Homo sapiens: one gene and its partner. The protein of the gene in region 2 purifies or fractionates together with the protein of the main gene of each other region. This does not show direct contact. Each region holds a gene or a part of one and is shown on either strand. Other genes may lie near its edges.

Evidence for each region.
Region 1: the proteins of NLRP11 (region 2) and CRY1 purify together in Homo sapiens (co-immunoprecipitation; one large-scale study listed by IntAct). This does not show direct contact.

What each region holds. Positions count from the first base shown.
Region 1 is NC_000012.12:107,083,343-107,087,163, forward strand, and holds part of CRY1 (cryptochrome-1), read right to left. Parts: intron 1-3,821.
Region 2 is NC_000019.10:55,829,846-55,833,766, forward strand, and holds the start of NLRP11 (NACHT, LRR and PYD domains-containing protein 11), read right to left. Parts: upstream 2,155-3,921; 5' UTR 2,118-2,154; intron 1-2,117. UniProt on the Homo sapiens protein: Involved in inflammation.

The DNA of each region.
Region 1 (3,821 bases), on a different chromosome or scaffold from region 2:
ATGAGGCCAACATCATTCTGATACCAAAACCTGGCAGACACAACAAAAAAAGAAAATTTCAGGTCAATATCCCCAATGAACATCAATATGAAAATACTCAATAAAATACTGGCAAACCGAATCTAGCAGCACATCAAAAAGCTTATCCACACGATCAAGGCAGCTTCATCCCTGGGATGTAAGGCTGGTTCACCATATGCAAATCAATAAATGTAATCCATCATATAAACAGAACCAATGACAAAAACCACACAATTATCTCAATAGATGCAGAAAAGGCCTTGGACAAAATTCAACACCGCTTCATGCTAAAAACTCTCAATAAACTAGGTATTGATGGAACGTTACTCAGAATAATAAGAGCTATTTATGACAAACCCATAGCCAATATCATACTGAATGGGCAAAAGCTGGAAGCATTCCCATTGAAAACTGGCACAAAACAAGGATGCCCTCTCTCACCACTCCTATTCAACATAGTATTGGAAATTCTGGCCAGGGCAATCAGGCAAGAGAAAGAAATAAAGGGTATTCAAATAGAAAGAAAGTCAAATTGTCTTTGTTTGCAGATGACATGATTGTATATTTAGAAAATTCCATTGCCTCAGCCCCAAAACTCCTTAAGCTGATAAGCAACTTCAGCAAAGTCTCGGGATACAAAATCAATCAGCAAAAATCACAAGCATTCCTATACACCAATAATAGAGAGTCAAGTCACGAATGAACTCCCATTCACAACTGCTACAAAGAAAATAAAATACCTAGGAATCCAACTTACAAGGGATGTGAAGGACCTCTTCAAGGAGAACTACAAACCACTGCTCAAAGAAATAAGAGAGGACACAAACAAATGGAAAAACATTCCATGCTCATGGATAGGAAGAATCAGCATCATGAAAATGGCCATACTGCCCAAAGTAATTAATAGATTCAATGCTATTCCCATCAAGTTACCATTGACTTTCTTCACAGAACTAGAAACAACTACTTTAAATTTCATATGGAACCAAAAAAAGAGCCTGTATAGCCAAGACAATCCTAAGCAAAAAGAACAAAGCTGGAAGCATCATGCTACCTGACTTCAAACTATACTACAAGGCTACAGTAACCAAAATAGCATGGTACTGGTACCAAAACAGATACATAGACCAGTGGAACAGAACAGAGGCCTCAGAAATAACACCACACACCTACAACCATCTGATCTTGACAAAAACAAGAAATGGGGAAAGGATTCCCTATTTAATAAATGGTGCTGGGAAAACTGGCTAGCCATATGCAGAAAACTGAAACTGGACCCCTTCCTTACACTGTATACAAAAATTCACTCAAGACGAATTAAAGACTTACATGTAAAACCTAAAACCATAAAAACCCTAGAAGAAAACCTAGGCAATACCATTCAGGACATAGGCATGGGCAAAGACTTCATGACTAAAACACCAAAAGCAATGGCAACAAAAGCCAAACTTGACAAATGGGATCTAATTAAACTAAAGAGTTTCTGCACAGTGAAAGAAACCATCATCAGAGTGAACAGACAACCTATAGAATGGGAGAAAATTTTTGCAATCTATCCATCTGACAAAGGTCTAATATCTAAAATCTACAAGGAACTTAAACAAATTTACAAAAAAAAAAAAACCCATCAAAAAGTGGGTGAAGGATATGAACAGACACTTCTCAAAAGACATTTATGTGGCCAAAAAACATGAAAAAAAAGCTCATCATCACTGGTCATTAGAGAAATGCAAATCAAAACCACAATGAGATACCATTTCATGCCAGTTAGAACAGCGATTATTAAAAGTCAGGAAACAACAGATGCTGGAGAGGATGTGAAGAAATAGGAACGCTTTTACACTGTTGGTGGGAGTGTAAATTAGGTCAACCATTATGGAAGACAGTGTGGTGATTCCTCAAGGATCTACAAACAGAAATATCATTTGACCCAGCAATCCCATTACTGGGTATATACCCAAAGGATTATAAATCATTCTACTATAATGACACAGGCACATGTATGTTTATTGTGGCACTGTTCACAATAGCAAAGACTTGGAACCAACCCAAATGCCCATCAATGATAGACTGGATAAAGAAAATCTGGCACATATACACTGTGGAATATGAAGCAGCCATAAAAAAGAATGAGTTCATGTCCTTTGCAGGGACATGGATGAAGCTGGAAAGCATCATTCTCAGCAAACTAACATAGGAACAGAAAACCAAACATCGCATGTTCTCCATAAGTAGGAGTTGAACAATGAGAACACATGGACACGGGGAGGGGAACAGCACATACCGGGGCCTGCCAGGGGTTGAGGGGCAAGGGGATGGAGACCATTAGGACAAATACCTAATGCATGTGGGGCTTAAAACCTAGATGACAGGTTGATGGGTGCAGCAAAACCACCATGGCACATGTATACCTACGTAACAAACCTGCAGGTTCTGTACATGTATCCCAGAACTTAAAGTATTAAAAAAAAAGCAAAAACTAAAGCTGCTTACAAGAGCTTAGAGAACTCAAAACAAAACAAAACAAAAACAAAAAACCTCATACACAAGAAAAACTTTAAAACTTTTTAGAGACTGGTTAAGAGGTTGTGATAAAAATGCTGATTAAAATATAGACAGTAAAGGCCACGTTCATGAGATCTCAAATAAAATTTTTAAAAACTAAAACAAAAAAATGGCCACATTATATGTTATGCTTGTTAACAAAAAACTTGGCTACATTGTATCCATGCCTAGGACTTTGTAAAAGGCTGAACTTAAGAGTAATGACTTAAGCTACCTGGCAAAAAAAAGTTTCTAAACAACAAAGCGTTCAAAAGGTGACATGGCTGCTTCTAACAGCCTACTATCAGATATGGGAGTTCAAAAAAAAGACAAAGTTAAAGCTAATAATTAAGAGAAAAACAGAGCATACAAATTTGAAAAATTTACAACCTAACCATGTGGTAGAGGGAAGTTTTCAGGAGAGAAATCCAAACTACCTAGCCCCAGGTACCAGGCCCTGACAGAACAGGTTGTTAAAGCAATTAACATGAATAAAAGAGAGCCAGTTGTTAACAGTCAAGACAATGGGGAAAAGCCCCCAAGACATTCCAGAAATCAAGGCTACCCCTTCCATCACAGGCTCAGAGGCCTCCTCGGGCAAAATGGTTTGGGAGGCCAGGCCCAGGGTGTTGCTGCCTTGTGCGGTCTTGAGATGCTACTCCCCACGTTCTGGCTGCTCTGGCTGCAGCCAGGGCTCAAAAGGCCCCAGGTACTGTCTGGACTGCCACTCCAGTGGGTGCAAACCATAGGCCTTGATGGTTTCCAAGTGGTGTTAAGTCTGCAGGTATACAGAATACAAGATCCATGGAGGTTTGGCAGCTTCCACCTAGATTTCACAAGATATGTCAAGAAGTCTGGCTGTCCAGGCAGAAGCCTGCCACAGCAGAGCTCCTACAGAGAGATTCTACTAGGCTGGTGCCAAGGGGAAATATGGGGTTACAGTCCCCACAGAGAACTCACTGTAGAGCAGCGGGAACAGGGGCACTGCCCTCCAGGACCCACAGTGGTGGCAGTCTAACTAAAGCCAAGAGAAGAAGAGAAAGGTGTGGTCAAATGTGTTAAATACTGTTAAGAAAAAGAAAAAGAAAGAAACAAAGAAAGAAAGAAAAAGAAAGAAAGGAAAAGAAAAGAGAAAAGAAAAAAAGAAAAGGAAAAGAAAAGTCAGGGAGTGGAAAGATTAAAAGTATCCTTTGGATGTAAACAGCATACACCCTCAGCCTGGAAAAGTGACAGACATTAGACTCCAATCCATGAGA
Region 2 (3,921 bases):
AAACCCACGTATAACTTTTGACTTCCAACACTCATAGCCTACTATTGACCAGAAGCCTTATCAACAGTCAATTAACACATAAGTAGACTCACATCTATATTGATTGCATTCATGACATATCTGACTTTAATTTTTTAAGTATTTCTAGGCTGCCTGGTTCATCTACAAGTTGTCATACATCTCCCCCAAAATTCTCCAATATATTTATTTTTGAAACTTCATGTATAAGTGGACACATGCAGCTCAAACCTGTATTGTTCAAGGGTCCACTGTAAATCTGTTTAACACAAGTGTTTTCTTCTTTTAAATCTTGTATCTAGGTGTTTTTCCCCCCTAAGTGAACACAAGTAGATTAGGGATTAGTAAGTTAAGCCTCACCAAGTCCAACCCTTCCCCAAATTCCCAAACTCTTCCCTCCTTTGACTTCTATTTCACCATTGCCTTTGAGCCCCATCCTTGTAACTGAGAGACTTCCGAGTTCAGGAGTCAACTGTATTTCTTTCTAGTGATATGTTTGTCTAATAAAGTAGTTACCTTTAGACTCAAACAGTCCATATTTCCCTAAACACTGTTGTATGAGCTTTGCTTGTGTTCTTTAAGGTATGATTTTTAAGTGGTTTGGTAATAATGCACCAGAAATATTTAATCATGACCCTCTCAGTCTTTAGGTGTTTCTGATTTCATACTGTGACATAGGATCATTCAAGGAAAATTCCATAAGCTTTTTGCCTAGTGATGGCTTCTTAGCTTCCTAAAAAAAAAAAAAAAAATGCAACGTTGAGTGTGTGTTAAAAGCTCTTATTACTTTTCCCAAAGGGCAAAATACTTTTTTTACACCAACCTTTTGTACACTCATCTGACCACACTGCAATGCTTTTTAAGTTGGTTGCTGGAATTTGCTGTTGACTGAACTATAAGGTGCCAACTGAACTATGAGGTGATCTCCAACACCTGCAAAAAAGCTGACACTACAGCATTGCACGTCCCAAGTCGGCGTTGCATCAGATTAGCTGATCACCGCACAGTTGGGCACTTCAAGCACCTGTGACCAGACTTTCTCAAGCACTGAGACACAGGGGAATCACCTGGGGAGTTATCAAAAACCCCAGTGTCCCGAAATACAGACACTGATTAGAGACTTTGGAGGTTGGGCCCAGGAACCAGTATATTGTTCCAATCCCCCCTGTAAATTCAGCACTCAAAGTTAAGAATCAATTTGTAAACTAAAAATAACATGTTAAGACCCACCGCCCCACCCCCCCCATCCCCCCCACCCCCCCGCCCACAACCAACTGAGCGGACCCCCTCCTGGCCAAGATACTTGAAAAACAGAATCATTGACTATGGCAGGAAGGGAGGTCAAACCTCCTCCTATCTCCTTCCTTTCGGAGCCTAGGCACAACTGACGGGCATTAACATTAAAATAGAGCTCAGGACCGGGTGCAGGAGCTCACGCCTGTAATCCCAGCACTTTGGGAGGTCAAGGTGGGCACATTACTTGAGGTCAGGAGTTCGAGACCAGCCTAGACAACATGGCGAAACCCCATCTCTACTAAAAATACAAAAATTAGCTACGTATGCTGGCGTGTGCCTGTCATTCCTGCTACTTGGGAGTCTGAGGTGGGAGAGTCACTTGAACCCAGGAGACAGAGGTTGCAGTGCGCTGAGATCACACCACTGCACGCCAGCCTTGGCGACAGAGCGAGACTCCGTCTCAAAATAAATAAATAAATAAAAATATTCTTTTCATCTCTAACACTTTATACATCACATAGAAGAATAGCATCCATAAGGCTATGATGACGAGTTAGTTAGGTTTAAACACTCCACCCACAGTGCACATACACTTCAAAACATCATGCTGCACACACTACATGCAATTTTATCTGTCAACTTAAATAAGTTTATCAAAAAAAAAAAAAGCATGACCCAAATTTACTCATGTGAACTTGAAAAAGGTAACAGAGCTTGGCCTGCCCTTAGGAACTTTAGTCATTTTATTCCCCAATCATATTATTTCCAGCTCCTAACCAAAGAGAAAGCTAAAGAACCAATGTAACATAATAAAAAAAGACCTTAAAATCCAAACAAACAAATCGGCCAGAAAGGTAACTCACCAACCCTGCCACCAGGTCTCCTTGGCTGGTCGAAAGCAAACAAGCTAGGCAGCGGGAAGAAAAAGGCGGTGCCTGCCCGGTGATTAGCCAGCTGACTCCTCTCTTGATTGGCCAAGGTGGGTTCTTGATGACCTTCGCGATGGAGGGGAAATACTGCTGCACCTGCGTGTTTCTGCCCAGATGCCCCAATTGTCTTTCTTCACCCAGGACTAAACAGGGTCTGCTGATTAGGAGACGGTCCACACCCCGTTTATGATGTTGGAGCTCATGGGGCATCTGACCAAGAACCTCCAAAACAATTGACTTAGGCAGTGCCGGGGGAAAGAAGTTTTCCACCAATAATCTCAATTTCGGATAACCATCTATACAGTAAGCTCCATGAGGGGAATACGCTGTCTAGTCTACATAACCACCTGGCAAGGATCCTTTCAAATCTGAGGGAGGCCATAAATATTTGTGGAACAAATGCAACCAAAGGCATGTTTAACAGGTGATAGAATTTGCGGAGGCACGTCCTAGATCCTCCACCCGGGGGGCCCGTCTTGGCTGCCTATTGGAATCACCTGGAGACCTCTAGTGAAGACTGATAGCTCAGTCCTATGCGCAGGTATCTGCTTTAGTCAGGAGGGAGTATGCTCTGGGTATGACTGATAGAGCTCCTCATATTGAACAGATTACAGAAGAATAGGGGCATCTTCATAGGTGCAAAAGGGGAAATATAAAAGAGTCTATATCTATTCATGGTTTTAGATGTATCTTTGTAAGTTAGGAAATAAAAGAATTTCCTTCACCCAGTAAAGGGTTCCAAAAAAGCAAGAGCAAACAAAAATCTCATAATGGACGGGAAAGTGATGAAAGAATACCTTTTACAATAAGATACAAGATAAACAAGGCCTCCGTCACCACTCTTATTTCAACATAGTGCACCTGTTCACTGGGACAAGAAAACGGATCTGAAAGAAAGAGGCGAAATTATCATATTGGAGATAATTTGAATATCCATGCAAACTCTCTCCCCTTAAATCTATTGATAAATTGTTAGGATTCAAAGCAGCTTTGGTGAATATAAATCAACATACAAATCTGATTGTGTTTCTCTAAAAAAAAACTAATTGGAATTTAAAATTTTAAAGGATGCCACATGCAGTTCCAAGAAAAATATAAACTAGAAATAATTCTTATAAGAGATTGTAAATCTTATTGAATGATATACAATGTTATTGCCATATACAAAATCCTTAAAAATGAAGGATAACATTACATTCTTGTACAGGAATTATTATTATGAAGATGTTAATATGCTCCCAAATAGACCTTTATATTCAGTAAAACAATAAAATCCCAATAGAAATTTTCATATCAAAATATAATTCTGAAATGTATGTGGAAAATAGAAGGGACTAGTACAAGCCAAGAGACGCCTGAAGCACATAGGTGGGTGGGAGGTGGGAATGATGATTGAGTTGGACCTACCCTATAAAGATTTAATTTAAAAACTATGGTAATTAAGACTTATTGGTTGGCCGGGGGCGGTGGCTCATGCCTGTAATCCCAGCACTTTGGGAGGCTGAAGCGGGCAGATCAGAAGGTCAGAAGATCGAGACCATCCTGGCTAACACGGTGAAACCCCCGTCTCTACCAAAAATATAAAAAAATTTAGCCAGGTGTGGTGGCGGGCGCCTGTAGTCCCAGCTACTCGGGAGGCTGAGGCAGGAGAATTACTTGAGCCCGGGAGGAGGAGCTTGCAGTGAGCCGAGATCAGGCCACCGCACTCCAGCCTGGGCGACAGAGCGACTCCGTCTCA